Regions from separate parts of the Homo sapiens genome. Here region 1 is linked to region 2. A link means that fine-mapping ties the variant in region 2 to the expression of a gene that starts in the linked region. Tissue or cell type: cerebellum. Region 2 holds a variant in brackets; the other region holds the start of a gene. All regions are shown on one strand. Distances are from middle to middle. Region 1 holds the start of ALDH1L1-AS2 (ALDH1L1 antisense RNA 2). Region 2 holds the start of LOC124909426 (a long non-coding RNA gene).

Region 1 (16,090 bases), 29 kb before region 2:
TTCAAAAGTGGAGGAGAAAGACTTCTCAAACAAAAATTGAAGGAATTTGTCACCAGTAAACTGCCTTACAAGATATGTTAAAAGAAGTAATTCAGAAAAAAAGGAAAATTAAACAAGTCAGAAACTCAACATACAAAAGAGTATTAGAAATAAATGTGAAATAATTTTTTTTCTTATTCTTAATCTGAGAGATAACAATTTGTTCAAAATAATAATTGCAACAATGTATTCAGTGATTGTAGCTTATGGATAAGTGAAATGAATGATAGCAGTAATAATAAGGCATGGGAGGGAGGAATCAAGAATACTCTGCAATAAGGCCCTTACACTACCCATAAAGTTGTATAGTGTTATTCAAAAGCAGACTTAAATTAGATTTAAGTGTATATTGCAAACTGTAGGTCAACCACTAAAAAAGCAACAACAAAAAAGTAAAACTGATATGCTAAGAGAGAAAAGAAAATGGAATCATATAAAATGCTCAGTTAAGATCAGAAAAGGCAGAAAAAAGTGTGGAAGAAAAAAGAAACAAAGGGCAAATAGAAAACAGTAATAAATATGGTAAATATTAATCCAACTATATCAAAAAATCACTTCAAATATCAATGGTGTAAATATACCAATTAAAACATGTGACTATCTAGAGTGAATAAAGAATCGTGACCTAACTATATGTTGTCTACAACAAACCCATTTCAACATAAAAACCAGATAGGTTACAAATAAAGGGATGGAGAAAGATATACCGTGCTACCACTAATCAAAAGAAATATGGAGTAGTTCTATTAACTTCAGATAAAGCAGACTTCAGAGAAAGGAAAATTATTAGGAATAAAGAGAAGCACTACATAATGGTAAAGGAGTCAATTATCCCAGCAGACATAATACTCCTTAATATGTATGTGCCTAACAACAGTGCTAAAATGTGTAAAGCAAAAACTGACAGAATTTTAAGGAGAAATAGATGAATCCACTATTATTACAGTTGGAGACATCAACACCTCTCTGTCAGTCCCCACTAACGTTTTTTTTGGGGGGGCGGAGTTTCACTCTTGTTGCCCAGGCTGGAGTGCAGTGGCACGATCTCGGCTCACTGCAACCTCCGCCTCCCGGGTTCAAGCAATTCCCCTGCCTCAGCCGCCCGAGTAGCTAGGATTACAGGCATGCACCACCACGTCCGGCTAATTTTGTATTTTTAGTAGAGCCTCCATGTTGGTCAGGCTGGTCTCGCACTCCTGACCTCAGGTGATCTGCCCACCTCGGCCTCCCAAAGTGCTGGTATTACAGGCGTAAGCCACCGTGCCTGGCCAGTACCCACTAACTGATAGATCCAGCAGGCTGGAAATCAGTAAGGACATAGTTGAACAGCACCATCAATTAAGTGTATCTAATTGGCATTTAGAGAATACTTCACCCAACAACAACAGAATACACATTCTTCTCAAGTTCACATGGAATATTCATCAAGACAGACCACATTCTGTGCCATAAAACATACAACAACAAATATCAATGACTTCTATGATGGAGATTACTGAGATCACAACAGAATCACTAGAAATCAATAACAGAAAGATATCTGAAAAACATTAAAAAAATGGAAACTAAATGACACACTTCTAAACAACATGTAAACAAATCAAAGAATAACTCTCAAGAAAAAATTTAAAATATTTCAAACTAAATTAAAATGAAAATATAACATCAAAATTTATGGGATGCTGCTAAAGTAGTGTTTAGAGGGAAATTTAGAGCACTGAATGCATATATTATTAAAGAAGAAAGAGCTAAAAGCAAGTTTCCAAATTAGGAAACTAGAAAAAGAAGAGCAAATTAAATCCAAAATAAACAGAAGAAAGGAAATAATAAAAATTACAGCAGAACTTGTGAAATTGAAAACATGCTGTCAATAGAGAAAATCAACAAAACCTAAAGCTGGTTCCTTGAAAAGATGAATAAAACTGAGACACCTCTAGCCAGGTTAACTAAGAAGAAAAAGAGAGAAGACTCAAATTACTAATATCAAAAATGAAAGAAGGGCCATCAATACTGATCCTACGGTCATTAAAAGGATAATAAAATACTAGTATGAACAACTCTATATCAACAAATTTGGTAAGTTAAATGAAATGAAACAATCCCTTGAAAGTACAACGTTCCAAAACTCACACAAAGAGAAATAGATAATCTGAATAGGCCTATACTGATTAAAGAACTGGAGCCAGTAGCCTTCCAAAATAGAAAGCACTAGGGTTAATGAATATGACTAAACATTTAAGAAAGAAATTATGCCAATTCTCTATGATCTCTTTCAAAAAATAGAAGTAGAGGAAATTCTCTAATTTTCTTGGGTCAGAATTACCCTGGTACCAAAACCAGAAACATTACAAGAAAGGAAACTAACAGATCAATATTTCTCATAAACATAGATGTTAAAATCCTCAAAAAAATCAGCAATTGAATCCAACAATGTTTAAAAAGAATTATACATAACCACCACATGGGATTTATTCTAGGTTAAACATTTGAAAATCAATTAATGTAATCCATCGCATGAATAGGCTAAGGAAGAATTATATGATCACATCAATAGATCCAGAAAATGCATTTGACAAGAATCTAACATTCATTTATGATAAGAGCTTTCAGCAAGCTAGTAATAAATGGGAACTTAACTTGATAAAGAAGATCTATGAAAAACCTACAGCTAACATCATACTTAATGGAGAGAAACTAGAAGCTTTTCCCCTAAGATCAGAAATAAGGCAAGGATGTTCCCTTTCACCCTTCCTAGTCAACATTATACTGGAAGTGCTGGCTAATGTAATTAGAAAAGAAAAGAAAATGAAAAGTCTACAGATTGGGAAGGAAGAAATAAACTGTTCTTGTTCTCAAAAAACATAATTGGCTATGTGGAAAATGCCAACAAAGCAACAGAAAACTGGAAATAATAAGTTATTCTGCCAAAGTTGCTGGATGTAAAGTCATGGTTAATATACAAAAATTGATTACTTTCTTATATACTAGCAATAAACAATTGAAATTTGAGATTAAAAACACAAAACCATTTACATTAGCACCAAAAAGTGAATTATTTATACATAAACCTAAAATAGGTCAAAATCTATGTGAGAATAACCATAACTGATGAAAACATAAAAATATGTATAAATAAATGAAGAGATAGTACATGTTCATGGGTAGGGAAACTCTATACTGTCCAGATGTCAGTTCTTTCCGACTTTATCTATAGATTCAATGCAATCCCAATCAAAACCCCAGCAGTTATTTGTGGATATCAACAAACTGATTCTCAAGTTTATTTGGAGAGACAAAAGACCTGGGATAGTCAACACAATATTGAAGGAGAACGAAGTTAGAGGACCGATACTGCCTGTCCCCAAGACTTTACTATAAAGCTACAGTAATCAAGACAGTACGGTATTGGCAAAAGAATAGTCAGATAGATCAATTGAACAGAATAGAGAGCCCAGAAGTAAACTCACATCAATACAGTCAACTGAACTTTGACAAAGAGACAAAGGCAAGACAATGGAGAAAATCTGCATTGCACAAAAATCACACAAATATCTGTACACTGATGTTTACAGCATCTTTATTTGTAACTGCCAAAACTTGGATTTGACTTTTTAGATACAACAACAACAGCACAATTCATGGAGGAAAAAAAATGGTACATTAGACCTTATTAAAATTTAAAACTTCTGCTCTGCAAAAGACACTGTTAAGAGAATGAAAAGACAAGCCATGGTTGGGGAGAGAAGACATATCTGGTAAAGCACTGTTATCCAAAATATACAAAGAACTATTAAAACTCAACAGTAAAACAAACAACCCAATTTTAAAATGGGCCAAGTAAATTAACCGACATTCACAAAAGAAGATATACAGATGGCAGAGAAGCATTTAAAAAGATGCTCAACACTGTAAGTCATTACAGATTGCAAATTAAAATATAACAATGAGATACTACTATATGCGTATTAGAAGAGTTAAATTAAGAGCACTGACAACAAATGCTGATGAGGCTGTGGAGCAACAGGAACTCTTATTTATTACTGGTAGAAATGAAAAATTATGCCACCACTATGGAAAAAGGTTTGGTAGTTTTTTATAACACGAAACATACTTTTACCATGTGATCCATCAATCGCTCTTGATATTTACTCAAAGGAGAAGAAAACTAATGTCCACACAAAAACCTGCACACAAATGTTGATAGCAGCTTTATTCACTGCTAAAACTTGGAAGCAACCAAGATATCCTGTAGTATGTGAATGGAGAAATAAACTGTGGTACCTCCACATCCATACAACAGAATATTAGTCAATGATAAAAAGAAATGGGTTACCAAGTCACAGAAAGACATGGAGGATGCTTAAATGCATTTTGCTAAGCGAAAGAAGCCAGTCTGGAAAGGCTATATACCATATGATTCATACATACTATATGACATTCTGGAAAAGGCAAAACTACAAAGGCAGTAACCAGTGGTTGCCAGGGATAGGTAGGGGGGTTGGGGGGTGGATGGGTAGAGCACAGGAGAGTTTTAGGGCAGTGAAACTATTCTCTATGATACTGTAACACTGGATACTCATCATTATATGTTTGTCCAAAACCATAGAAGGTACAACACCAAGAGGGAATTCTAATGTAAATTATGGACTTTCATTAATAACATTGCATCGATATTGGCTCACCAAGTATAACAAAATTGGCCAGGCCTGGTGGCTCACACCTGTAATCCCAGCACTTTGGGAGGCCAAGGCGGGCTGATCACTTGAGGCCAGGAGTTCAAAAGCAGCCTGGCTAACATGGTAAAACCCTGTCTCTACTATTATAAAAATACAATAATTAGCTGGGCATGGTGGTGCACCTGTAATCCCAGCTACTCGAGAGGCTGAGGCCCAAGAATTGCTTGAACCTGGGAGGCAGAAACTGTAGTGAGCTGAGATTGTGCCACTGCACTCCAGCCTAGGCAACAGAGCAAGACTGTTTCAAAAAGAAAAAAGCTGTAACAAAAATATCCTATCAATGCATGATGTTAAAAATAGGGGAGGCCAGGCCTAGTGGTTCATGCCTGTAATCCCAGCACTTTGGGAGGCCAAGGCAGAGGATCACTTGAGCCCTTGAGTTCAAGGCCAGCTTGGGCAACAAAGTGAGACCCATCTCTACAAAAAAATTTTTAAATTAGCCAGGCGTGGTTGTGCATGCCTGTAGTCCCAGCTACTTGGGAGGCTGAGGCATGAGAATCACTTGAGCCCAGGAGTTCAAAGCTGCAGTAAGCTGTGTTTGTGCCACTGCACTCCAGCCTGGGCAACAAAGTGAGACCCTGTCTCAAAAAAAAAAAAAAAGAAAAAAAAAAAAAGAAAGGAAAAGAATAGAAAGAAAAATAGGAGAAAGCGCGCAGGAAGGGACAGACTGAGAATATGGGAACTCTGCACTCCGTCCTCAATTCTTCTGTAAACCTAAAACTGCTCTAAAAATGTCTACTAATTGAAATAAATAAATGAATCTAGCTCTATAGTTCACATCTTACTCTAAAATACAGTCCAATTGGGTTAAAAATAAATACTTGAAAATCAAATATAAGAAGAAAACATTAAATTATTAGAAAATATTGGTAAATATTGAGTTATACAAACCTGACACTGTCAAAACACCCAACAAGTAACAAACCACGATAATTGTGTAAGGCTTAAGTTTGTGTGTGTGTGTGTGTGTGTCTGTGTGTGCATGCGTGTGTTTATCTGCAGGGTAAAAGCCTAGAAGAATTTACACTGAAATGTTGAAAGTTACTGGGTAAAGGGTTTTGGGTTTCAGAGGTTTTTGACGACTGTAATTATTTTGTTTTCTTAACTGAATGTTCTTTTTTTATATTGTACATGATTACTTCTGAAAAAAAAAAATAAAAGAGTATGTCGTTCCCCCCCTGCAGGGAGGCAGAGTCCAGGTGGCCACCAAGGGGCTGTTGTCACAGTCCAGGGAAAGCCAGAATGGCAGGCACGGGAGCCTTGGGAGGGGCCTCAATCAGGCTTGCCCTTTGGCCCCAGAAAGAGCAGGGGCCTGCAGTGAAGCCCATAGAGCCCCTTGTGGGCCGTATGGGCCGCCTCCAGGCCTCCACCTCCTCCCCCAGTCATGGCCGCTCAGTGTCCTTTCACTTGGTGGTGTGGGGACACTGGGAGGCTTCCTGGGCCTCCCAACCCTCCTACCCAATTCCCAGCCCAGGCTTGGCTCTCCAGGACCCAGCTTCTAGTCCCTGTGAGGCTGGGCCACCCTGCAGGACTGCAGCTCTGGGCCCTCTGTTCTGGTGCTAGGGCCCTGGGGCCCATGAATGCAGTTCTAGCACTCGGGAGGCTGAGGCGGGAGAATCACTTGAACCCGGGAGGCGGAGGTTGCAGTGAGCCGAGATCGTGCCACTGCACTCCAGCCTGGGCGACAGAGCGAGACTCTGTCTCAAACAAACAAACAAACAAACAGCAGCCAACATTCTCCGAGGGTTTCCTAGGGCCAGGCGCGGGGCAGTCTCATGTAATTCTCAAGCAATCTTGGGAGGCAGGCACTACTGTTCATTGCCCCTCCCGATTTTAGAGACAAGAAACTAAGATTCAGAACACAAGAAACTTGCCCAAGGTCAAGGAGAAGTGGAGGCGTGGGGAGGAAACAAAGTCACCTGACACCAGAGCCCATGCCTCCAAACTCCAAGTCTGGGACTCCTGATTAAATTCCGTCTCTGTCTGCACTTTGGGAAGATTCTTTCCTCTCCTAGGCAAGTGCCCGCGGGGCCTGAGCTCTCGATAGCGGGGCCCCAGGAGCCACGTTGTGGGGTCTGCTATCCGGCCTCCCTCTGCACGCGCGACCGTCCACTTGAGCGCAGTGGCTGGAGCTGGGACTCCAGCGCAGCCCCTGAGCGCTCACGTCGACCCCTCCAATCACAAGAGGCCCTCGTGCCAGGCCCCCAGATTTGGCCAATCAGGGAAGACCTTTCCCTGTCACAGAATGGGGTCGAGGGGCCCAGGAAACAGGTAGTCCCCAGTCACAAATCATCGCGTCGCCTTCGCTGGTCCCTTTCTCTTATCGAGCCTCAGTTTTCTCTTCCATAAGCCGGGCCAGCAGTGCCCACCCCACAGGTTGGCGCCAGCTCCGTAAGGGCCCTACCACCGCGGCCGGCCAGATCCTCGGCGGGCCAGTCCTGGCGCTGCGGTCATTTAGCCTGATGACCCCTGGCCAGGTTCAGCCTCAATTGCTCCAAAGAACTCCGGACCCGTACCCCGAGCCCGGCGTCCCAGCGGCGAAGTTGATGGGCCCCGCAGGAGCCCTTGCGGTGAGAACCGAGTCCTGGAGCCCCTGGAGCCCCCGGAGCCCCCGGAGCTGCAGCCGGGGCAGCCTCCTTTCCGCCGGGAGTCCAGCGCTCTCGAGAGCCCAGAAACTCACCGCGCGCAGGAGTTGGTGCGGGCGTCCCGGGCAGGTTAGACTTCTGTGAGCCGCAGCCCCGAAACTGAGGTTGGTGCAGACCCGTCCTGGGAGCCAGGAGGTGGGACCTGTCCCCGCCAGTCCGCGAGCTCTGGTTAAGGCCAGAGCCCGTGAGGGGAGGGGCGCGGGGCGGGCGGAGAGTCAGCCGAGTGGGGGCGGCGCTCACCGGTGGTGGGACTATGGCGGGAGCGCAGCGCACCCTCTCCGGGCGGGTCTATAAATGCCATGTAAAAGCCAACCCCGCAGGGGCCTGCGCTCTTTCCCGCTTAGGTCAAGAAGACTTACTGTGGACCCTTGGAGAATTCCCAGGGCTTTGAAAAGTCCCAAGCACCCAGCAGGGCTGGCAGTTCTGAGCGCTGGCAAGGCTAAGTGGGTCAGAGGAGACCCTCGCCAAGCCGGTGACTCACTCACTCGCTCACCCTCTCTCACTCTTGATGGGCCAAGTACCTGCCATGTGCTACGGACACAGCAGAGCGAAAGGAGACGCTGCCCTCCGGGAATTTGCAGCCGCTTGCAGAGGCGGCCCCTTAGCAGCTGCGCATCCGGGTGGATAGCGGCGCTTCTGCCCGCCCAGTGCCTACCCGCCTCTCCGAGAGAAAAACAGCCCCTGGTTTTCTCTCTGCAATTCCCCTTCTCCACTCTCTCCCTTCTACTCAGTCCTGGTGCCGCAGACCCCTCCTCCTGGTTCCCAGAGATCCTGGCCAGCCCGGTCTCAGGCAAGGCCATGTAGAATGCCGGGAGTGATAATTGCGTATTGTTTCATGACTGCAAGCCTGTGTCCAGGTGGCTCCTTCTCCTGGAACACCCTTCCCACCACACCTGCGGCCGCACTGCTCCGTGCCCTGCTAAGCCTCACTTCTTTTGAGGCGACCCTCTCGCTAAGTCCCGACCACCTGGCCCTCTCTCTGCTCAGTGCCTGAACACATCAGGCTTGCTGCAGCCCCTGCCTTTACCTCTCTACTTGTAGTGTTCTTTCAGAGCCTGCTCCCATATGGTATCACATATCAGATATCTGATGCAGAGCCTTAGAGAGGCTGTTCCAGGTCACACAAACTAAGGAAGTCCCTCAGCCACTCCCTGCCACATCACCCTGTTCTATTTCCTTCACAGCACTTAACTGTATATCTGATATTTCCTTGTTTCTTTGTTTGTTCATTGTCTGTCTCTCCCACTAGACTGTAAGCTCTTTGAGGACAGGAAATTTGTGAGATGTATTCACTGTTGTATCCCCAATACACAGTGATGGCTTGTAGCAGTTGCTAAATAAATGTTTGTTGAATGGCTTAATGCATGTATTTTGCTCACATAAGCCAGTATGGGCACCCAGGATTGAGGTGGCCTGTGCCTGCTGATCCACTTAGCCTACTTTCAGGCACTGTCCCCTTGTTCTTTAGGCTCCAGCCTGCAGGTCTCCCTGCTGTCCCTCATATCTGTGGAACTTCTCGACTCATAAAGTTTCCATGTGCCGTTCATCTTTGTCCAGAGAACCCCCATCATTCTTCAGGAAGTTCCTACTAAAATGCCATGACTTCAGGGAAGCTTTCCCTAGCCTCAGCCTTACTAGGACAGATTCCTCCATTATGTGATCACAGAGAGGCCTGTAATTTTTCTTCATGAACCTCTCTCAACTTTATTTATTTATTTTTTTTTGAGGTAGAGTCTCACTCTGTCACCCAGGCTAGAGTCCAATGGTGCAATCTCAGCTCAATGGACCCTCCACCTCCTAGGTTCAAGCGATTCTCCTGCCTTAGCCTCCTGAGTAGCTGGGATTACAGGCATGCGCCACCACACCCAGCTAATTTTTGTATTTTTAGTAGACGTTTCACCGGGGTTTCACCATGTTGGCCAGGCTGGTCTCAAACTCCTGACGTCAGATGATCCACCTACCTCAGCCTCCCAAAGTGCTGAGATTACAGGCATGAGCCACTGCACCCTGCCTTCAACTGCAATTTTATCACTGCTTCTGGGATTGCTTGATTAACATGTCTCTGGACAATGATGGCGAAGACTAGCTTATTCTCCTGGGAAGTCCCCAGGGCTGAATGCATGCCCTGTGTGTGGAAGGTGTGCCATATAATCTGTAGGAAAACTGGCTGAGTGTTAGGGGCCTGCAATGGGAAAGTGGTGTGTTCTGAACTTGGGAGTTAAAATTGAGAAGGCAGATGGGCGACAGGAACCACTGAACAATGGCTTGGAGGTTAGACACCCCAAAAAGATGTATTAGGAAATCAGAGAGGAATCCATACTCTTAGAGGTATGGAGCAGGAGAGGAGGGAATTTTAAGCAGAAAGTGTTCCGAAATCATGTGGAAAGTAGAAAATGTACCAGATGAACTGGGGGATCTCATTAAGGAGATTGTTGAAGGTGCCTCCTCCTGGCTTCTTCTTGCTGCTTATACTAAAATGTGAGAGAAGGGACATAAGCCAAAGGAAGGATTGTTAAATAAAAAGGAACCATAACTTGGGCTGTGAAAATGTCCAGCTTCTCCAGATGTCATATGATGCTAAAACTAACAAATGGCTTCCAGGCAAAGAGCAAATGCAGGCCAGTGCAAGGAAGATGGCCTAAAGATGAAGCCAAGAGTGTGGTCATGAGATCTTTTGTAAAATCTTCAAAGAGAACAAAGGGACACCTCAGAATATTTTGTTAAATAGTAGGATTTCTAAGAAGCTTACAGTTGTCCTTGACAGCAGTCTCAGCAGAAGCCCAAGAGAGAGAAGGGCTTTTCTCAAAGAGATGTGTGGGTTTGACAGTTGTCTAAAGGCATGAACCTCAGTGAGATCTACAGGAGACATGCAACATTTTTAAAAGAATTATATGAGCAAAACAGTGTAGACTTGGACTGAAAGGGTCAGAGACAATATAAAATGAAAAGAGACCTCTAGACTCCCCCAAATTCTGGGAGGAAGCAAGCTGAGAAACTATACGGATATGAACCTGGGCTGCATTTCATGGAAAAGAAGGGATGACTTGGGGAATAGAACAAAGAACCCAAAGGGTGGAGCCAAGAGCGTGGAGAATCACTCTGGGGCCAGAGTCAGACTGAGTCCTATTCAAGAGACTTTCAGGACCCGCCCAGGAAGATTTTAGAATTGCCGTACACTAGTTACTCCTGCATGCCTCCTGTCCTTGTTCCCTTTGGAGCAGGCACGTCTACAGTGGTTATCCAATGCCTATCCCACCAGTTTATGTCAGGTGGGTGCAGGGGGGAGGCGCAGTTAATTTGTCTCTGGAATTCCTAAGTCTGTAGATTGAGAGCAACTCTACTCAAGGAGCTACACTTGAGGGAATAATACCCCAGGTGCTTCACCCACATCAAAGCCTGATTTAGATGCAGAGATTCTGGATATTGAGCTGATTCTACAGTGGGATGAGGCTTTGAGGGGATGTTTGGAGGGCGAATGTATTTTGCATGTGGAAGGATGTAAGTAGTTTGTGGCCAGTAGGTGGACTGTGGTCATTTTAAAACTCTCTGATGCTCTTCCATTCAAGGAGTGGCACTTAATTCCCCTGCCTTTGAATGTAGGCTGAACGTAGTGACTTCCTTTTAACACATGAAAGATGGTGGAAGTAACTGTGTGATTTCCGAATCCATCCTTTCATAGACCAGAGAGAGAAGCTGAGGCTTGAGGTCAGACAGTGGCAGAAGCCAGCTTGTCCCTGTCCCAGGACTATATGATACTCTCTGAACGAGTCCCACTGAAACCCTCTTTTGCCAGTTCAGTTCACTGTGCCGGGAATGCCCTGCTTCTTGAAGCCACCAGCTGAGCCCTGCCTGTGCCCCAGGGATGGGCTTGTGCATCATCTCCTTTGGGAAGCCTGACCCCAACCTTCTCCTTGGGAATTCCCTCACTCACAGCACAGACCACACTCTAATGCAACTATTTATATGTGTGTCTGTCTCTTTATCAACTGCAACACCTCTGAGGGCAGGGACAGGGCCTGTTTCATCTGTGTATCCCACAGCCCTGCACAGGCCCTGATCCAGGAGAGGCACCTGCAGTGACAGTGGCTGGATAAGCCCTGCAGAGAGAGCCTCTGCCCGGGCTTTCCGCAGGGCCCTGGTGGCTAAGTCCTCCCAGGGAAAGCAGTGTGCACTTACACAGCCCAAGTCTGGGTAGAACAATGGGGGCTACTGCTCCAATCCAGAGGCAGATTAGGAGACAAGCCTGGCTCAGGGCTCTGTGAATGGGGGATGGGATAGACATGGGTTCTCTTTCTGTTGTATAATGATGATTCAGCTTGTTTTTGGGGAATCAGTAACTGGGACTGTGTGTACGCTGCAAAGGAAACATTAACTTGAAGGTCATAGCCTGTGGGAAATCAAAGCGGGGAGGCCAAGTGACCTGGGCTTGTTTTTGTTTTGTTTTGTTTTGTTTTAATTTTGGAGCCAGTGTTTCTCTTTATCTCCTAGGATGCCTCGTTCAGATGCTTCTACCCTGCCTCGTGAGTTACTCATGATGTCACCTGATCCCCACCCCTTAGAACCTCTCCCCAGTGGGAACCAAGAATTCAAAATGGTTTTCTCCATATTTCCCCCTTTAAAGGGCCTGCATGCAATTTTTCATGTAGAGGCGAAGGTAGGGATGAGACTTAACAGAGCTCTGTGCCACACACCAGAGCCCACCTGATGACCTGCAGACATAGATGGAATGCTTCTGGGCCACAGAGCTTACAGCCCTGCTCCTGCCAGGTCCTCTCCAGCCCCATGCCAAATCTAACCTGGGGGTGTTGCGTGTTTGCACCCCCATGCAAACTGGCTGGTGCCAGCACCTGGCTGGCACATGGCCCCCAGAAACTCACTGTAAAGGAATAAATGAGCAAAGAGGAGGCAGGGACGGTGTCTCTACTCCAGGTGCTCGCACCTCTATGGGGGAGATGAATGCACAGGTGGCAGATATGAAAGGTGGGAGGGGATGTGAACCATCACAGAGGTGAGACATGAAGAAAGCGGGTCTGGGTACTTCAGGCTTCACCTGGGAGATAAGGCCCAGTAAGACTGTGATGACTTTAACCAGCAAAAAATAAGAAACGTTCCAGTTGGAGAGAATGTAAGAATGATGCATTGGTGCATGGAGGTGGGGATGTGGGTTGTTTTTGAGGAATCAGGAGAAAGCATTGCAGCTGCAGGAGAGAAGCTGGCAAAGTCAGGGGTCACGAGGCCACAACATGGGGTGCAGACTGTGGGTTTCACTCTGTTGTCCAGTGGTAACAAGATGTTCTGATTTCATAGGCCAGGGCAATTTCAACAGCATTCCAGTAACTGATATTAGATTCTCATTTTCTTATTTTGCAAAGTAAAAACATCTTTAAAAAGTCAATATTCTGGAGTATTATTCAGACTTAAAAAGGAAGAAAATTCTGACACACATTACAACATGGAGGAATCTTGAGTAGTTTATTCTAACTGAGTTAACCCAGCCACAATAGGACAAATGGTTCTGTTTCTATGAGGTCCCTAAAGTACTCATGTTCATAGAGACAGAAAGTGGAATGGGGGGTGCCAGGGGCCATGGGGAGGGGAGAATGGGGAGTTCATGTTTAATGGGGACAGAGTTTCAGTTGAAAAAGTTCTGGAGATGGATGGCAGTGATGGTTGCACGACAGTGTGAATGCTCTTAAAAACATAGCACTGTGCACTAAAGAATAGTTAAAATGGTAAATTTTGGGTTATGTTTATTTTACCACAATTAAAAATAATAACTTTAAAAAATCAGTTTCCATCAGCCATCACCATAATTGCATTGGAAAAGCTCATGTAGCATCAGAAAGCTGAAAGGAGCAACTGGGCCTTCTTGGAAGCTCTGTCCCTGATGGCCCTGGGCCTGGGCTGGCCACTAAGTGTGAGGAAATCACCCACCCAGGATTCAGCGCAGGCATGTGCAAGACAAGTGAGCAGAACGTGGCACTGGTTGGGGAGCACAGGATGGTGCCATGGCCCAGGGCCAGGGACAGCAGGGCCCTGACCCTGACCCTGAACCTGACCCTGACCCTGACCCTGACCCTGAGCCTGAGGGCTTGGGGTGTGGAGAACTTCATGGAACCCAGAGGAGTGCAGCGTGTAGGGACTGCTTGGGAGATGCGGCAACTGTGATCATAACAGGGAGCAGGGAAGACCCAGCTCCCTCCCTCACCTCATGTCCTTCCAGGACCCTCCAATGGCTAAGTCTCTGCAAGTCAGAGGTAGAGAGGCCTGGGGCTGCAGCCCTCCCAGGTCAGACTCCAAGCACCAGGCCCCGTGAAGGGTGGGGAGTGGACCAGAGGGATCCGCAGATGAGTGGCACTGTCCAGTCAGTGGAGAGCCCACCTCATGTTGCTCAGTGGAGGGAGCTCCATGTGAAGTAGCTGCAAAAGTGCTGGAAATGCTGCAGGGCAAAAAGAAGTGGTGAGGCAGCTGGAGATCAGCAGTAGCACCAGCCGCCACCACCTGAAACTGCACGGACGCTGGGAGGGCAAAGTCACTGTGGAGCTCTGAAGTTGGAACCATCCAGGAACAGGCACCCAGGGCTGCTCAGGGGGAGCGGGGATCGAGGAGAGGCTGCTGCCATTCCTGGAGCACACACTGCGAAGTGTTTGGCTGGGAAGGGGAAGGTAACAAGAGAAGGTCATGGTGGGAACGGGGAAAGGCTGTAATGAGAGAGACTTAAGAGTGTAAAAAGCTATTGAGAAAGACTCAGCTGAGAAGGAAAAGTTGAATGTACAAGAAAGAAAGGGGAGAATCAGTAGTGTCTGTGGTTCCTAAAAACGGGGGGAAGGGAAGATGTCCAAAAGCAGATTCCGAGGTGGCTTGAACAGCATCATAACCAGAAGGAAGGAAGGGAGGGTGGGAGGATGGATGGGTGGGTAGCTAGATGGACGGTGGGGTTTCTTTACCCATGGTTCATGTTGGTACAAGATCCCCCCTTGTGGCTTTCCTTCTCTCTCTAAAGAGTGGAGTAAGGTCATCTCCCGAGGTGGGATGCAGGAGAGGGAAGCTCGAGCAGTCCTTGTGGGATTGGGGAATGGGAGAGCGGTGGAAGGACCCTGGGCCGTATTGAAGGCACACCTCAGTTTACAGTGGGGCGAAACTGCGCGTTTGAGACCCCAGAAGCATCAGACTACTCAAGAAGCAGGCACGGAGGAAAAGGAAACCCATCTCTGAGTTTACCCAAGACTGACCCAGATGGTTTCAGTGAAAATCAAAGGGCAGTCTTGGACTGCAGATTCTGAGCTGGACGAGGAAAATGCTGGTGAATTGAGGGAAACTATCAAGGGCCCTTTAAGACCAATGAGAGGGTCGTGCTGGAGCAGTTGAACCGGAGACTAAAAGAGCAGACCCAGAACAGAAGGTGGAGGTGAGGAGTCTGAACGAGAGGTTCGGGTGACAACGGCTCTGTCAAAAAGAAAAAAACCTTAAGCAAGTTTAAACTTGTCAGAGTTTATTTGAGAAGAAAAAAAAAGATTTGTGAGTTGGGCAGCCCTCAGAACCAGAACAGGTTCAAAGAGCTCCTGGCTGCTACACGGTCAGGCTGCATTTATGGACAGAAAGTGGAAGTGAGGCAAAAAGAACAACTTAATTGGTTGCAGCTCAGCATTGTATCTCACTTGAAGCAGCCGGCTGCCTGTTACTAACTGAAAGTCAGATATTTGTGACATGAGTATACATTTGATCCTTGGACAACGCAGGTTGGACCTGTGCGGGTCCATGTTTGCAGGATTTTTAAAATAAATACAGTTGGCCCTCCATATTGGCAGTTTCTGCATCTACAACCAAATACAAATCAAAAATACAGCATTTGTGGAATGTGAAACCTGTGTATGCAAAGGGCCAACTTTTCGTATTCATGGGTTTCACAGAGGCAATTGTGGGACTTCAGTATGCACGGGTTTTGGTATCCGCAGGTGGTCCTGGAACCAATGCCTTGCAGATACCGAGAGACCACTGTGCTCCTAAGTTAGTTACATTTAGCAGGAATTACTCCATATTGGCTTGGTCTGTTGGGCCCAGTAAAGGAGCTTTCTCCAAATCAGTAGCCTCCTGCAAATTTAATTTAACAACCCCTTCCTTTTGGTCAGGATCTCACCTAAGTAAGAATGTGAATAAAACTTAGGGCATCAGCGCTCCTCCCACTTACCGTCATTTTAGATATTCAGTCTCAACGTGTCATTTATTCATAGTCCTCATGATCATACTTTTGAGGATTTTTGTCATTCCAATAAATAGATACCATTTAATGTTTAACAGATAGCTGCATGCAAACATTTAAAAATTTTTGAAAGAATACAATGCACCAGGAAGACTACTATTATGACTATTGGGAGCATGATACCAAGAGTTTAAAGTATGCCCCTTACCCAGGGTCCCCATGAAACAAATCAACTACAGTCGAATAGATCAAACAATACACCAAATGAAGAGTGCACCCATTTTAACCAAATAGCCTGTTTGTTGTTTTTTTGTGACTGAGTCTGTACAGTACCCGACGTATTTATTCATATGCAACAAAAAGCATCAGCACCGACTCCTCCTTGCTCAGCTGATAAGCCATCTCGCATCCCATGACTGGGCCAAATCAAAGCAGGAGTTTTGTGGGCCAGAAGTCCAGCTCTATAAAAG
Region 2 (16,090 bases):
AACTGAGACACTCTCAGACAATCACAGCGTTCAATCACAGACAATTGCAGACATTCTCAGACAATCACAGTGTTGTGCCTTCTTAGCTACGGCCCCAGACTCCACCACAGCAGGTGGGAAGTTCAGCCAGTTCCATTTCAGACTTGAAGGGCCAGGACACCCAGATGGCAAAGACTGGCCTCATGCCCACTAAGGATGAGTTGCGAAGCAGACATTCATGAGAAAGGGAAAGGAGAGATGCTGACAACCACATCCACACAGCTCTTGGACAAGGAAACTAGGATGCAAATAACAACAGCATCTTGGAAAAAGGTGGTGCTGCACTTGAAAGGAAGACAGGAACCCACTTTTAAATATTTTATTCCCAATGAAACATGAGACAATGAAACAGGAGCACTTGTTAACTCAAAGAAGGACTGAAAATATGCCCCCTTCCTCAAAACTCTTTTTTAGAAGCCACTGGAGCACGCAATCCAGAAAAAAAAAAAAAAGAAAAAAAAAACAGAACAAACAAAGGAACAGCAAGATCTGGATGCAGGAGCCGTGGGGGCGGGTACTGGTACAGGACACGGGCTACAGTCAGTCTCAGGATGCCTGCAGGCTGGGCAGCCAGAGGTCCTGTGCAGCAAGGCAGAGGTGCTGGGGCACAGTGGGGTTGACAGAGTCTGCAAGATGAGGCACCTTATAAAGGATATGGCCATGTACTTGACAGGTCTAATGCAGCATTTTGAAAAAATAAATAAAGATCAGTGCACCAAAATGAAGCAAATTTTAAAATGAGGTCATCACTAACTCTAAGCGAAACAAAAAGTTGGACTAGGAAAAAACCCCACCATATACTACTATTGCGTTTGCAGTGTGGTACATAGTCTTAATAGACTACTAATGTATAATAGATTGTAAAATTTATCAATATTTTACTACATCCGTACTGGGAGATTGGAGGGTTGGGGAGAAAGGGAAAATGCAGAGAAGGGGGCTGGCACAAGGAATAAATCTTCATCTGTCCTGACAAACACTCCGCAGAGCATATCAGAAATTACTCATTGGGCAATAGCTGTGCAAGCGTATTATTTGGAAGCACTTATTAATGTGTTTGGTATTTCCACTCTTGTTGGATGTGTGCAGCAGGCCCACTTCAGGTGCAGAAGGGGAGGTCCATTGTCTCATCCTTGTACACCTAGCACCACCAGGGTGTCTGCAGAAGGCAGGGCTTAGTGAGCTAATGAACAGGCAAACACATACACGTCCTTGGATATCCCTCTGCCACATTCAGGGAGCAGGGGTCTGTGTGTAGGGAACCTGCTCCTAAGGCAGTTGGCTGTTGTCTACCCCACCCCCCCACACACACACCTAGGCTGGACTTACCCTCTCAGGCCCCAAAGGTCAGGCCAGGTAGGGCTGGGACAGCCTCCCTAGCAGGGCCTGATGGCTAAGGAAGCAGGGATGTAGGCTGAGAAAGAGAAGGAGGGAGACACGGGGGTTGCAGGCTCTGATTTCAGGTCCATGCTGGGGCCCTGATGGCTCATGCTAGAGATGGGTATCATGCTTGCAAAGTTCTACAGGAAACGGGAACATGGGCACCGTGTCCCTGGGCTGCCTGGGTCCTCCCTGCCAAGTCCAGTTCTGCTTAGACTCACACGCGGCCATCTCTCCATTTATAGGGTTACTCCAGTGAGTTCAATTACAGCACTGATTCCCTGTGCTGAGGGCTCAGGACAGGCAAAGAGCTGCCCTTGACTTCCGGGATTCTTAGGTTCCCCATGGCACTGATACTGTGGACTTGTGAAATTTCATTTCTGATAAGATTGCATAAATCCCAATGAGGTCACTGTATTAGTCTGTTCTCGCATTGTATAAAGAACTACCTGAGACTGGGTAACTTATAAGAAAAGAAGTTTTAATTGGCTCATGGTTCCACAGGAAGCATAGCTGGGAGGGCCTCAGGAAACTTTCAATCATGGTGGAAGGCAAAGGGAAAGCAGGCACATCTTACATGGCCAGAGAAGGAAGAAGAGGAGAGAGAGGCGGGAGGTGACACACACTTTTAAACAACCAGATATGAGAACTCACTATACCAAGAGCAACAGTGGGGATCTGGCCACACGATCCAATCACCCCGCACCAGGCCTTTCCTCCAACATTGGGGATTACAATTTGAGGTGAGATTTGGGCGGGGACACAAATCCAAACCATATCAGTCACCTTCTAATGAAATGCTTTTTAATGAGGTCGAGAGCTTTGCAATTGGTGCAGAGGGCATACACCTGGGAGAGTTTTTTCTATAAGGGTTTTTCGCTGAAGCTTCCTGAAAGTATTGGTGTCTTTATGTTGTAATGGGTGGGCCACTGAGTTCAACCAACATTTAAACAAGCACTTGCTATGTATTGGCCTGGATGAAAAAGGCAGGGTCCCTGTGCTCCAGAAGTTCAGAGTCAGGGAAGGGAGATGGATGTGTCCAATCCATTCATTCTCTTGATAAATGTGTACTGAGCACCTAGGATATGTTGGACACTGTCCCAGACACTGAGATATAGCAAAGAACAAAATTTCAAAAAAACACCACATAGGACTTACCTGACTGGGAACAGACAATAAGCATAATAAAGATGGGAATTATCAGCTATATGAAATGGAGAAAAATAAAGTAGGGGAGAGGAGAGGGAGAGTTGAGGGAGGTTGCATTTTAAACAGAGTGGTGAGGGAAGCTTCATGATAGAGTGATAACTGAGCGGAAACCTACTGAAGGAAAGTGAGTCAAGTACACCCAGGGGAAGGGCACACCAGGGGGAGGAGCATCTGGTGGGAAGGGCACACCTGGATGAAAAGTACAACTGGGGGAATGGTGTACCTGGGGAGTGAGTGTACCTCAGGAAAGGGTGCAACTGGGGAGAGGGAGCACCTGGGGGAAGGGTACACATGGCAAGTTGGTACACCTGGGAGAAGGTTCACCTGGGGAGTAGGTGCACTTGGGGAGACGGTACATCTGTGGAGAGGGCACAGCTGGGGGAAGAGTACACCTGGGGAGGGGGTGCACCTGGGGAGTGGGTGCCTCTAGGAAGAGGGTGCACCTGGGGGAAGGGTGCACCTAAGGAGTGGGTATACTTGGGGAAATGGTGCACTTGGGGGAAGGGTACACCTGGGGAGAGGGTGCACCTGGTGGAAGGGTATACCTGAGGAGTGGGTGCACCTGGGGAGAGGGTGTACCTAGGGAGTGGGTACACTTGGAGAAAGGGTGTTCCTGGGATGTGGGTGCACCTGGGGGAAGGGAGTACCTGTGGAAAAGGTGCACCTAGAAAAGGTACACCTAGGGAAAGGGTGTACCTAGGGGAAAGGTACACCTGGGGAGTGGGTATACCTGGGGAAAGGGTATACCTGGGAGAAAGGTACACCTGGGAGGTGGCTGCACCTAGGAGATGGACACACCTGCGGGAAGGGTTCATCTTGGGGAGGGATTGTCTCATCTCCCTATCCTTTCCCTCCCCTTGTCATTCAAACCTCTAAAATACAAGCTTTTCTCAACTTGGGGCTTGGGGACAAGGGTCACAGAGTCAGTAACCATTAGAAGCAGTATGTAATCATTTGTGTGTACTGCATACAGTGGCATTTTTCTCTAGTGAGACAATTTGTGACTTTAGAATGAGCTTTTTCCCAAAGATTGAGAATCCTGGGATGTTTATTCAATTTCACTCATGAATGCAATGGTTTATTAAAGAATACATTTCCAGAGGAAGTGATGGTCAGAGACGCTTGCTAAGCTTCTAACAGAAGCTTGCAGCCCTGAAGGCTGCCTGCCTCCTCCTGGAGGTCATACCCAGATCTATGCTGGACACCCAGGTCGTGCAAAGCTCAGAGGTCAGCAGGGCTGCCTCTGCCAGCTCCTTTCATGGAAGCTGAGGCACAAGCCTGACAACTTGTTCACTTGCAGCTGACTTCATGCTTTTTGCTTTAGCACATACTTGAGAGAATGTTTCAATTGGAGTCCAATCAGACCAGCCATCCTACTTTGCCATTTTATCACAACCTCAGCACATACACAGGAAAGTTTTAGCAGTTCAACAGAACATTTTTAGTCATTTGGCAGAAGTAGTATGCCAATTTGCAAATTTGCTGGAAATTTCCCAATATACAATCTCTGTTAACAAGCTCATTACAAAACTTCTCACAGCCTCCCTGGGGGATTGTACTAGGAACTAGATGTATCCAAGGCACTAATGTTGTTTCTAGATATTTTATTTTTATTGTGATTGTAAAAGAGATCTTTGTTCACTTTATTTTGTAAAGGGTTGTTGCAAGTATATATAAATGCAACTTATCACTGTGTTTATTTTATATCCAGCCACTTTATTCTCTTACTATTATCCCTAAATACTTGCTACGTCTTTGAGGAATGCCCATATTTTTCTGCCCTGTGGACATCACTTCTTGACCAATAAATTGGGAGTTCAGTGCTGGATTCTGAGCAGGGAAGTGATGTGTGCCTTCTAAGCAGAAGCTCTCTGGGTATCTGTTACTGCTTTTAAAACCATCCCACTGTAATCCCAGCACTTTGGGAGGCCGAGGTGGGCAGATCACGAGGTCAGTAGATCGAGACCATCCTGGCTAACACGGTGAAACCCCGTCTCTACTAAAAATGCAAAAAAAAATTAGCCAGGCATGGTGGCAGGCGCCTGTAGTCCCAGCTACTCGGGAGGCTGAGGCAGGAGAAGGCGTGAACCCAGGAAGTGGAGCTTGCAGTGAGCCAAGATCGCGCCACTGCACTCCAGCCTGTAAGCAAGACTCTGTCTCACAAAAAACAAAATAAAACAAAAAAACAAAACAAAACAAAAACACCATCCCAACACAGAGTGGCTTAAAATAATGGTTCATTATGATGTAATGGCCCTGTGGACTGGGTGCGGTAGTTCTTTCTTAGGTTTCTTATGTGTGGTAGTCAGTTTCTGGCTGCGGCTGCACACCACCTGAAGGCTCAGCTGGGCCGGATGTCCAAAATGGCCGAGTCGCACAGTGAGCAGTGGATTCTGACTGTCACCTGGAGCCTCAGTGGGGGCTCTTCACTGGAGCACTCACATATGGCATCTCCACATGGCTTGGGATTCTCACAGCCTGACAGCTAAATTCCAGGAGGGAACATTATCAAGAGATCCAGGCATCTTACAAGCCCAGCCTCAGAAGTCCTAGAATGTTACTTCCATCACAATCCATTGGTTAAGCAAGTCACTAAGGTTAGTCCAGACTTTGTTAGTAAGACAAAGGCAAGATTCCAGTACTTGGTGTAAGAATCATCCAGCACATACAGGGAGGAAAGAAATTGATGGTGACTGTCTTTGGAGACTATCCATACCAAGCTTTAAAAATCATCACCTGGTTCCGCAAGCTCTTTTCCTTGGCCATGAGGCCAGCGTGTCCCAGGTAAGGGCCGCTAGAACTCAATGGACTGATTCGTTCATTCGGGCATGCATTTTAAGTTAATAAACACTTACTGAGTCTCCACTGAGTGCATACATGATGGAATCAAACCAAACCAAGGCCCTCTTCAGCTATACCCATGTCTGGGGCACAGGAGGGATAGTGGGGGCAGGCTGTGCTTGTTAGGCAGATGAGTTCAGAACTACAGAGTGATGCAAATATTAACACCTATGTAGCACTTACTGTATGCCAAGTATTACCATTTTACATACTTTACACATTGTGCTTTACAGCAGAACCTGAGAAACACGCTCATCAAGTCCAGGAAATAAATAGAGGTATCAGCTGTCACTTTTTTATTGTAAAATTTTTTAGTAGTGCAATAAAATAAAAACAAAATAGAATACATAATTATTAAGAGAGAAGACATAAAACATTACTATTTTCAGATACAATGATTTTGATCTGCAGAAGTCTCAAGAGAATAAACAGAAAAATTCCTAAAATTAGTAAGTAAAGCCCTAGCTCCATCACGTACAAGCCTTATGAGCTTAGGTCACTCACTTCCTGTCTCTTCTCTCATCTGAACCTCTGTAGGGCCCTGGAAATGGGGGATCTCCTGCCTTGACAGCTCATCAGTACGTGTGAAAAGCCAACAAGAGTGGATATGATAGGAACTGCAATCACACAGCACTTTGGAGAATGTGAAGATTGGTGCTCACAGCAGAAGTTAACACACTGATGCTGTGATCACTGTTCAGTAGGTGGAATGGTCCTTAGTGATCCTTGAAGAGTAGCTGCAACTGGAAGACACAGAATGGAGAGGGTGGATCATGCAAATGAAAAGATGGGCTCCAACATTCAGCGGAAGGAATTTATGGTTGGTTCCCCCGTTTTTTTGTTGGCGGTGGTGGTTTATTTTCATTCCCCATGCCCGGTCCTTCTGATGGCACTCACTGATTTGGCTCTAGGGCACAAGTCTATGTTGCATGCAGTCCTGGTGTAACAATCAATTGAGGCATTTCCTGGGCGAGGAGCTGGGACACGGGCCAAGCCAATCAGACTCTGGTTCCCCCAGGACGCTGAGTCATAGTGGAGCCATGCCAAGACGGAAACAGCTGACCTGCTGTGCTGCTGCCATGGCTCCCTGAGGAGTGTCCCTCAGTTCCTAAGAGGGGACTGTCTGCACGCTGGCTCTTATGGGTTGATTTTGCACTTTTTCTTTGATTCTGAGAGCTACCCACATCCTCTCCAATTCTTGCTCCAGTCAACCAGACACAGTTTCTATTGCTTGCGGTGGAAGACATGCCCATGCAGAAGGCGTCAAGGCTCTTGGGAAGATGGGGAGTGGCATGTGTTCTCATGGTGTTCACAGCTGCACATGGGAAACACCTCATTGCCTTCGCACAACAAACCCAAGAGGGAGGGGGTTCCTTCCCCAATTCTGCAAATGGAAAAACTGAGGCTCAGAGGGGAAATTGATCTCTCAGTGTCACAGCCAATGAATGACAGAGGGAAAGTTGTGGTCCAGGGCTGAGTCCGGGTTCCACAGTGTGTAGATGAATTTCTTCAACCCCTTCATCATGTGACAAGAGCCACAAGGTCTCCAGGCCTCCTGGACATGACAGGTGTTTGCTCACAAACTGAAACTTTCTCTGCTGGGTCACACCCTCCTCGCCCATCCCTACTCTTGGTGCAGGGCATGAGCTGGACCCTGGAAGACCAATGGGTATTCAACTTTCAGAAAGCCTTGGCGAGGTCTAGTGATGAAATAATTTTGTCATTTGGAATGCTGACAAAAAAAATTTGAATTTTTCGGCCATAGTTTCATTTCCATAAATCACTTCATTCTTATCCTAATCCTTCCCCAACTGTTTGTCAAAATTCCCATCAAATATTTTTCCACTTGGAAGACTGATTTTTAACACTCATACCCCACCCCCACCAGGCCACGGTGTGGACATTTTTCATTCCTAAAGTCAGGAGGCCAGAGACATTTCCAAGAGAGATCAAAGCACTTGCTGGCCACGTTGGAAAATGAGAAGGGAGGATAAGGGTGTGAAGGGGCATCCTGCCTCCAGGAGGGACCCCCTCCAAGTGAGTTAAGAGATGTGGGCCAGGAGGGCTGAGCAGTAGCATCCACTGGGAAGCCCTGGGCTCCAGGCCCAGCCCTGTAGCTGCCTCACTGGACAAGCCCTTCCAGCTGGCCTCGGAGGACATGGACCATCTTCCCGGGTTTGGCTGTGTATCCCAGTAGCACCATGGAGTAGCCAGGGCCCTTGGCCAGGCCACTAAACTACACCGTACCCCCCTTGTCATCTGTTGCATGCAGGCATCAGAATTTACCTTTAAAGAAGTGTTTCTCAAACTTGAGTCACTTAGTTTTCATGGCATATTTATACAATATATGTGCGATTATTAAAAGTTTCCTTTAAATCAAATTATTGCCTTTGTTTAAATATCTTTCTGTAACTTGCACATATCATCACTGAAGATGGAAAACCAGTATCACATGCCGTAAACAAAGGGTAACTAAACAAAATAGCACAACTATAAAATAACAGATTTCATATGTCCCCTAAAATCAACTTGTGTACTACCAGTGATATGCACACCCAATTTTGGAAACACTACTTTAAGGGGGTTGGGATATGAACTCAAATACCTCCAACTCTAATATCCCCAAGTCCTTCAATTATCAGGGGTTTCTATTTCATAATTTAAAAAACAAGCAGCCTGAATCCACATTCTACATGCGATGGCAAGTCTCCTCCCACCCATTTCTTCTTCCCTTAGGAGACTTTTGTGGATTTCCAAAAGGTTCATGTTTTTCAGGAACAAACCAATGGCCAAACCGTGGTGTGGTGGGGGTTGAGGGGTGTGAGCTACCTCCTTTCCCACAGTGCCTAGCTCCTCGCTGGCAATCCATGTTCCATTGATGCCCAGATTTACACACCAAGCCTCTCTCCTGAGCTGCAGATGTGTGCACCTGACCATACACTTGGCAATTCTCTTTGGCTATCTTGTTGACGCCTCAGCTTAGCACACTGAAGACAGAACTCCAGACCTTTGCCCTAATCCTGCTTTCTCCAGGCTTCTCTGCCAGGGGGAGTGGCCATTCCCCAGGTCCTCATGTTTCCACAGGGGCAGAGACCACGTCTGTCCCATTCCCTGCTCTATGTCCTATGCCTGGCCGGAGTAAGAGCTTGTATGGGCCAGCTTAAGCTGTCATACCAAAGAACAAACGACCCCACGTCCTAGGGACTTCAAATAACAAAGGTTTATTTCTCTCGCATATTTATGCCTCTCTCAGCATGGCTGGGTCTTGATCCATGTCAGCTTCATTCCAGAATCAAGGCTGATGCAGCAGCCCCTACCAGACGTGCCAGGCTGCTGCCAAGGGAGAAAGAGCGACAGTGCAGCCACCGATGGCGCCTGGAGCTGCCACATCTGCCAC[A/T]CTGCTCATTGCCCGTGGCAGAGACTGAGTCACGAGGGCCGGGAAGCTCCGTCTCCAGGGAACAACTTGGGAATAACTGCACAGCCTCCCACAGTGCTTGACAGATACTGATTGGATACTGATAGGAATAAGGTGTCACAGGCAGCTTCCATCATGATCAGCTTCCATCATGGATCATGAAGTTCACATGAAGATTAGAAAGTGGGCTTCATGCTTGGGTGGGACACAGAGCTCACCCACTGGCTGAGATATTCATTTCTCACACAGGTGAAGTCAAAGGCCTTACACACAGGACCCCCACACCCACAGGCCTCACACTTGGCCCTGGAGGCTGCAGGCTGGCAGCCCAGTGTGTGGGGTCCCCCTGCTAAGCCCCTCCAGCCTGCCCCTATCCACACCCGTCCTCCGCCTCTGCATCTGACCCGGCTCCCACATCACACCGCTGGGGGCTCCTACCTCCTGTGGGCCTCACTGCCTAAGAGTCTTTGAACCTCTTAGTCACTCTGAGCCTTCCATGGTTTGGTCCTTGGAAACCAAAGGCTCACACAAGGTCCCATCTAAGGGGCCTGCCCAGGAGGCAGATCTGGTCAGTCAAGTCCTCTCTCAGCAGGAGTCCCCTGCAGGCAGAGACTCACGGCTGCTGAGCCAGGAAGTCAGGGCCACAAGACTTATAGCCCTGGCAAGTCTCCAGGTAGTTGACACTGGATACACTGCCATGGTGGGGCTGGAGGGTCAGCGGGCGGTAGGTCAGGATGTCAAAAACAGGGGAGATTGACCCTATAGATACACCTGTATGAGCACAAAATGGCAAGCACACAGCCCAAGTTCCTATCCACAGGGTGTCCGTTGAAAAGATCATGGGTACACCTTGGAGCACTTGAGGCGGATGTCAGAAAGAATGAAAAAGCTCTGTGCAGGCCTATGGAAAGGGCTCTGGGACTGAGGAAGGAAGGAGAGGGGGAAGGGAGGAAGGGAGGGAGTGAAGAAGGAAGGAAGGACGGAAGGAAGGAAGGAAGGAAAGGAGGGAAGGAAAGGAGGGAGAAGGGAAGGAAGAAAGAAGGAAGGAGAGAAGAAGGAGGGAGGAAGGAAGAAGAAAGGAAGGGAGGAAGGGAGGGAGGAAGGGAAGGAGGAAGGGAAGATGGAAGGAGGGAAGGAAGGAGGAAGGGTGGAAGGGAAGGAGGAAGGGAAGATGGAAGGAGGGAAGGAAGAAGGAAGTAAAGAAGGAAGGAGGAAGGGAGGAAAGAAGGAGGGAGGGAGGAGGAGAGAGGGAAGGAAGGAACGAAGGAAGGGAGGAAGGAAGGAAGGAAAGAGGGAAGGAAGGGAGGAAGGAATGAGGAAGGGAGGAAAGAAAGAGGGAGAGAAGGAAGAAGGAAGGAAGGAGGGAAGGAGGAGAGGAGGGAGGGAAAGCAAGAAGGCGGGAGGAAGGGAAGGAAGGAGGGAGGCGGGGAGGGGTACACAACAAGGGCAGCCTAGGCTCCGGTTGCTGTGACAAAGAAGCGGAGTGGCCCTGCTGCATTCTTTTGCTGGCATTTGGCATAAGCCTGTGATAGATAAAGAGCAGAAGGTGCCTTTAGGGGGCACCGAAGAACAGGGTCGATAGGGCTGGGGGAAAGCAAGTATTTCAAAGCTAACTTTTCCATCATTTTTGTGTTTGAACCATGTAAATGTATTGCCTGTCCCCCTAAAATGGATTAATTGAGAAGAGAGCGAGACCACGCCGAGCCTCGGGCCATCACAGCCTGAATGGGAAGCAGCGAACCCCGCTGTGACGGCTTCAGGCCCCGGCCTGTGGAGGGTGGGGGAGTCGCCCTTGGGAGGGGCTGGGCCCCACCGCCGGCTCTGCTTCTCACGGCAGGGGCGCCCCCAGGAAGGGACAGGACAGGGAGCTTTGTCCCGCAGCGAACGGGAACGCGGAGGCCCGGCCTCTCGCCTCCCCACCCTCCCCACCCTCCCCGCGCCTTCTCGGGCCTCCGCGTCCGCCCTGCGCCCTCGGAAGGCGCCGCCCGGCGGCCGCGGCCCTTCGCCGCAGCCAGAGTGCTTTGTCCGAGCTCAAAAAAGCCGTCTCCATGGAAGCGGCCCTTCCGCTCGGAGCCCGGCGGCCTGGAGGGAGACCCGGCGGGGATGCGAGGATTCCGCCCCAGCCCCAGAGGACGCGGCGGAGAGCCTGGAGGAGGCGCTTTGAGAGTCGAGGTCTCCCGCCCGCGCGCCTCCCTGGCGCAGACCTCTTTTAACTTTTTGGCGTGGAGTGCGCGTCCTGACGTGCCCCCTGAGCTACAGCTTACTGAGCTTTACTGGCTTCGCCGGACAGCCGTCCCCAGGTGGAGAGACAGCGCGTCGCGCGCTGCCCGGGCCCCGCAGGGCCTGGCGCCTGGGGCCCTTGCGCCGCTTTGGGGCGAGGGGATCACACCGCGGGCTCCCGGAGCTTAGCGTCTTCCACGCGGCGCTGTGTGTCATCCACGCAGTGTGCTCTCGCTGCCGTGTTCAGGTCACTGCGAGGGTGAGCCCCGCTTTATCTACCCCTTCTGCTGTTGATGGGCACTCGTCTGGGGCTAGAAGGGATAAGGTTGCTGTGAGCGTTCTCGTGTGTTTTTGGTGCACGCGCACACACATTTCTCTGGGGTGCAGACCTGTCTAGTAGTGGAACTGCCGTTTCCCAGCACTTTGGAGCAAAGCCCTGTTGCAGTCTGAAGCGGAAAAGGCAGACGGGCCTTCCATGTTCGTGATTCCAGCCAGGCACAGAAGGGAAGGACAGGGACAGCAGCCGCGCGGAGGCGAGGAGGGACACTGGGCGCTGCTGTCCCCTCTCAGGGGCAGCCACTCCTCTTGTGGACGCAGGTGTGGTCACCAGAAGGGAAGGACAGCAGAGGACTCTTCAGGGACCTTCCTGGATCCCCCTGCAATGGGAGTGGCCTACTTGCTTGACTTGAGGGTGAGACTTGGTCAGCCCTTGACTGTAGGGGGCAGGACCATGGGCTTCAGTGGGGCAGCACCCATGACCCACGCCTCTGCTTCCATTCCCTGCTTACTGCCCGGGCCTCTGGGCAGGGGAGTCTAGTCTCCCTTCCCAGGCTTCCAATGCCTCGCCCCCTGCTGTGGTAAGGATTCGCGCTGGTCCCTATTTATTAATCAGGGAACTTGGGGTTCCAGTTTTCTCCCCTTCTCTGCATCTCATCCCCTTGAGAGCCCCCTGGAGCAGAGGATAACGCACGAGGGGACTGGCTGTGTATATTTTGATAACAATATCAAAATACTGTCAAATACTAAACGGAAAAGAAATAGGAAAACATTGAACTTTATTAAAATGAACTTCAAAAGACACCATTAAGAGTAAAAAGATGACTCACAAAAAAGTTGCCTTTTGTTCAGTAAACGACTCAGGACCAGAAAATATGAAGACCCCTACAACAAGAAAAATATAGATAGCTCAGTTAAAAATTGACAAAAGACTTGAAAAGATATTTCACAAAAGGAGAGATCCAGACAGTCAATCCACACACGAAAGGGTACTTAGCATCAGGGAACTGCAAATAGTGACATTCGATTCCATATCACAGCCACTGGATGGCTAAAATAGCAACGCCAAGTGCTGATGAGACTGTGGAACAACCAGCTGGGCTCTCATACCCTGCTGATGGGAGAGTGGATTGGAGCAACCACGTGGAAACATCTAATGGAGGTAAGCAAACGCCTGCCATAGGAACCAGCGTGTATATCCAAGGGAACCGAGTGCTAGGTTCCTGATCATGGTCAAGATCGCCTACAGCAAATTTACTTATTTATTTTAATCCCCCAACAAATGTCTTTAATGTCTTTAGAAAGATTAATTAAATGGTAGTATTTTAAGAATGCAATGGTATACTGCACAGCAACAAAAAAATAACAAACTGCTAATACTTGCAGCAACATGGATAAATCTCAAAGTATTGAATGCAAAGCTACAATAGAGTGCATAACTAAGGATTCCATTATATAAAATACAAAATCCAGGCAAGACTGATCTACAGTGTTAGAGGTCAGGAGAGAATTTTGGAGGTAGTTGCTTGGGCACCGGGATACTGCGTGGGGAGCTGTGAGTGCTGCATATCTTTAGCTGCGTCCTGCTTGGAGTGCATACTCTGTGAAAATTCATCAACCTGTGCACTTAAGACTTGTGTACTTACATTATCTTTCAGGAAAAAGAAAAGAAAAGTATGCCAAACTTTACCCTTCACCTTTCTTCTCAAAATGGTCAGGTTTCAGAGCTGTGGTAGAAACTTCTAGTACTGACAACAGCCAGTACCTCCCCGCTTGGCAGCTGAGACTATGGGACCAGTTCTGGCCAATGGAATGTGAGGGGAAATGACGGATGTCAATTCCAGGCTGAAGCTTTTAGTTGCCAGAGCCAGGTCCTCCAGTCCTACCTTTCCACTGTGGCAGTCCCTCTGAAGTCCCAAGATCAAGAGCTGACAGCTGAATCCTTGCATGGAGAGTCGCCTGGACCTGCAGTGGACTCTGGATGAGGGAGTATACACCGTAAGTGTATTAAGCCAATGCTGTTTCAGAGTGGTTAATTACCACAGCATAACATGCCCTATCCTGACTAAAATGGATGTGTAGGAGCTCGACAGAGGAATAATTGTCCTTTTGGTGCCCTGCGCTTGTTCTTGGCCTTGGCCAGGTAGCAGCACACTTAGTATCAGACCGCCCAAGTGTCCTATGTCTACATTCGGTGGAACCCATTGTGGTGGCCCCTGGATCGACATTACAGCAGAGGGGAAGCACTGGCCTCCTGCACTCTCAGTTTCAGCTAGCTCTGCGTGCCGTTTTTCTCAGTGACAACATTCCGTGTAGGTGTTTGCCCACTGCCAGTGCTGGGTGACCTACGCTGGTACAGTCGGGACTACAAAGTCCTTTTCTTGGGATGCTTCCTTTACTACTTTGAACTCTTGGCTCTTGGCACTGGAATCCCCTAGCATTTGGGATTACCAGAAAACAAGAGGTGGCAAGATGGTGCAATAATTTTGAACCCAGCCCCATGTTGAAGTGCACGACTGGGGACAGTGCAGTGGGGAAATGAGAGCTTGGGGCCAGGAAGACTGCTTGGGTTCTAACCCCGGTCCCATTGCTGGCCACCTACGACACACTGGCAAATCACTTTTATCCCCAAACCTCAAAAATGGTCTCAAGGTTTCCAAATAGAGGTGTTTCTTTTCATTTTCTAGAAAAGTGAGCATAGTGGTAGAGCCCCTGAAGCTGCATCCTTCTGGGGTAAGGCAGAGCCATCTCACAAACCACACCACCTGATGGCATCTATTACAAATGTCAGATTTTGTAGGCTGAAGTGACCAAGAAGCCATTGGGAATGAGCAAAGTTTTAAATTGCTGGAAGGAATCTTCAGCAAACAGGCAAATACTTTAAAATTTTAGGTGATCCATCACTGAATAATTTGAAAGATCTTCAGATTCTTGTACTGTGAATCACTTCTGTAGGCATGAAAGAGTGAGCAATGCAGGCATAACATTAAAAGGAGACTGATAAGGAAATAAAAATGAAGAACAGAAATAGCTCCAAAGATTAGATGTAAGCCCTTGGGGTTGGGATTATCTGGAGAGAGATGGGAGCTCAGTTGTCGGAATAAAGCCAAGTAGCAAGGTAGCCTTAAATGTACTCCAATTTTCACCACTCAGCAGCAGGAGCCAAGCAGAGACTGCTTCCCTAGACCCTTGCTTATTGGACACCACAAACTTCCTGGAGGTGCTAGCACATAGAGGTGAGGTGTTTTTTTATAGATCCTTTTGGCTCATCATGACAAAGGGAGACACAGGTTATGGTGTTATTCTTTCCAACCTGAAGGCTGAACAGACAACGGACAGACCCTGCTTCCCAGATTCCTCATCCTGACACCAACAAGATAGTGAAAAATGATGCAACCACAAAGTGTTAATTTTCCCTTCCTGGTCCCACAGTTTTATTTAATAATTTCATTGGGCATGATATTTTACATCAGCCAGCATAAATACTAACAGCAACCAGAGAGACAATGCTAGGAATCAAGAGAGTGTCTATAGCCTGCTTCGGGCAAATGTCTAGCCTGAATAGATCTTGCCTTGTTCAAGGTTGTAAACACCAGTAAAAAGGGGACCTATAAAAATATTTTACAGTTTATAAGATGTAAGTGTTCATGGTATTAAAAAGGCAGGGAGGTATGTTTTTCAACATTGCTTTATTTACCAAGAAGGGGGGAAATTTTAGAGAGCAACTGCTTTGTGGTAACCATAAATCTCAACCATACGTAGGCTCTTTAAAGCAAGAAATAAGAAGGGAAGGCAACGTGGTATAGAACCAGATTCCAATGAGCCTGAAAAATAGCTGGCTAATTTTCTAAGAAAAGAACTAAGAAAGAAAATAAAGAAAGAAAATAAAGAAGTTATAGGCAAAATGGCGAGGAAATTAAAAGTGCAATACCAGAAATAAAATATGCAATGTATCAGTAAAAAAAAAAAAATCTATACAGCAAAACAAAAATAAATGGAAAACTTAAACATTGGTCATTTAAGAAACTTTTCCAGAAGCAAAATAAGTAAACAATTAAATAGGGACAAAGAATTTTAAAACATGAGAAAAAAGATAGTAGATATGGAGGAAGAAAATGGCAGATCTAACATATGGGTAATTAATGTTCTGAAGAAAACACACGCAGTATACACAATAATACAGTTATAACAGAAAACTTTCCTGAGCTATAAAAATACCTGAATTAAAATTCAGAGCACTTATATTTACACACTACTATGCGCAATTATTTTTATTTCAAGATTAAATGAAGTATAAGCATCCAGGTAAGGCACACATATTCTTTTTTCAAAAAAAATTCCCTTCTGCAGGGGTTGGGTGGACAATAAAGGATACAAATTATCCAAAAAAGAAAAAAATTTCAAATAAATTTTAAAAACCCCTAACACTTTTTGCAACTTTAAAAGCCAATAGAGAAATACCTACAGAAAACATTGCTGAAAAAGTCTATAAATCAAGAGCTCTTATTCAGGTTTTATTCAAATGAGAAAGCAACAGAAAGACACTGTCAGAAATACAATGGTTCAAAAATAGACAATAAAACCTAAAGGAAAATTTTACTTGAACACATGTCTTGATCAATCAAAAGCTAATTAAAAAAAAACAGCTCATTTCAAGGACTATCATAAGATATAGAACATTCAATGGATTGAACATTGAAACTGTTATGA

The links. PIP is the estimated chance that this variant, and not a neighbour inherited with it, causes the effect.
Region 1: ALDH1L1-AS2 starts here. The variant in region 2 is fine-mapped to the expression of ALDH1L1-AS2 in cerebellum (GTEx, PIP above 0.99).

The regions. Positions count from the first base shown.
Region 1 is chr3:126,173,021-126,189,110 of GRCh38, forward strand. It overlaps ALDH1L1-AS2 (ALDH1L1 antisense RNA 2), which reads left to right and starts at 7,045. Exons shown (of 2, transcript NR_046383.1): 1 at 7,045-7,524. It overlaps ALDH1L1 (aldehyde dehydrogenase 1 family member L1), which reads right to left and starts at 7,566. Exons shown (of 23, transcript NM_012190.4): 1 at 7,456-7,566. RefSeq lists enhancers at 7,226-7,981, 7,982-8,735, 11,586-11,880.
Region 2 is chr3:126,202,320-126,218,409 of GRCh38, forward strand. It overlaps ALDH1L1-AS2 (ALDH1L1 antisense RNA 2), which reads left to right. Exons shown (of 2, transcript NR_046383.1): 2 at 6,007-7,850. LOC124909426 (a long non-coding RNA gene) reads left to right here and starts at 10,713. Exons shown (of 3, transcript XR_007096060.1): 1 at 10,713-13,378. RefSeq lists enhancers at 5,810-7,009, 11,188-11,700. The variant A/T (reference allele first, on the strand shown) is at 8,867.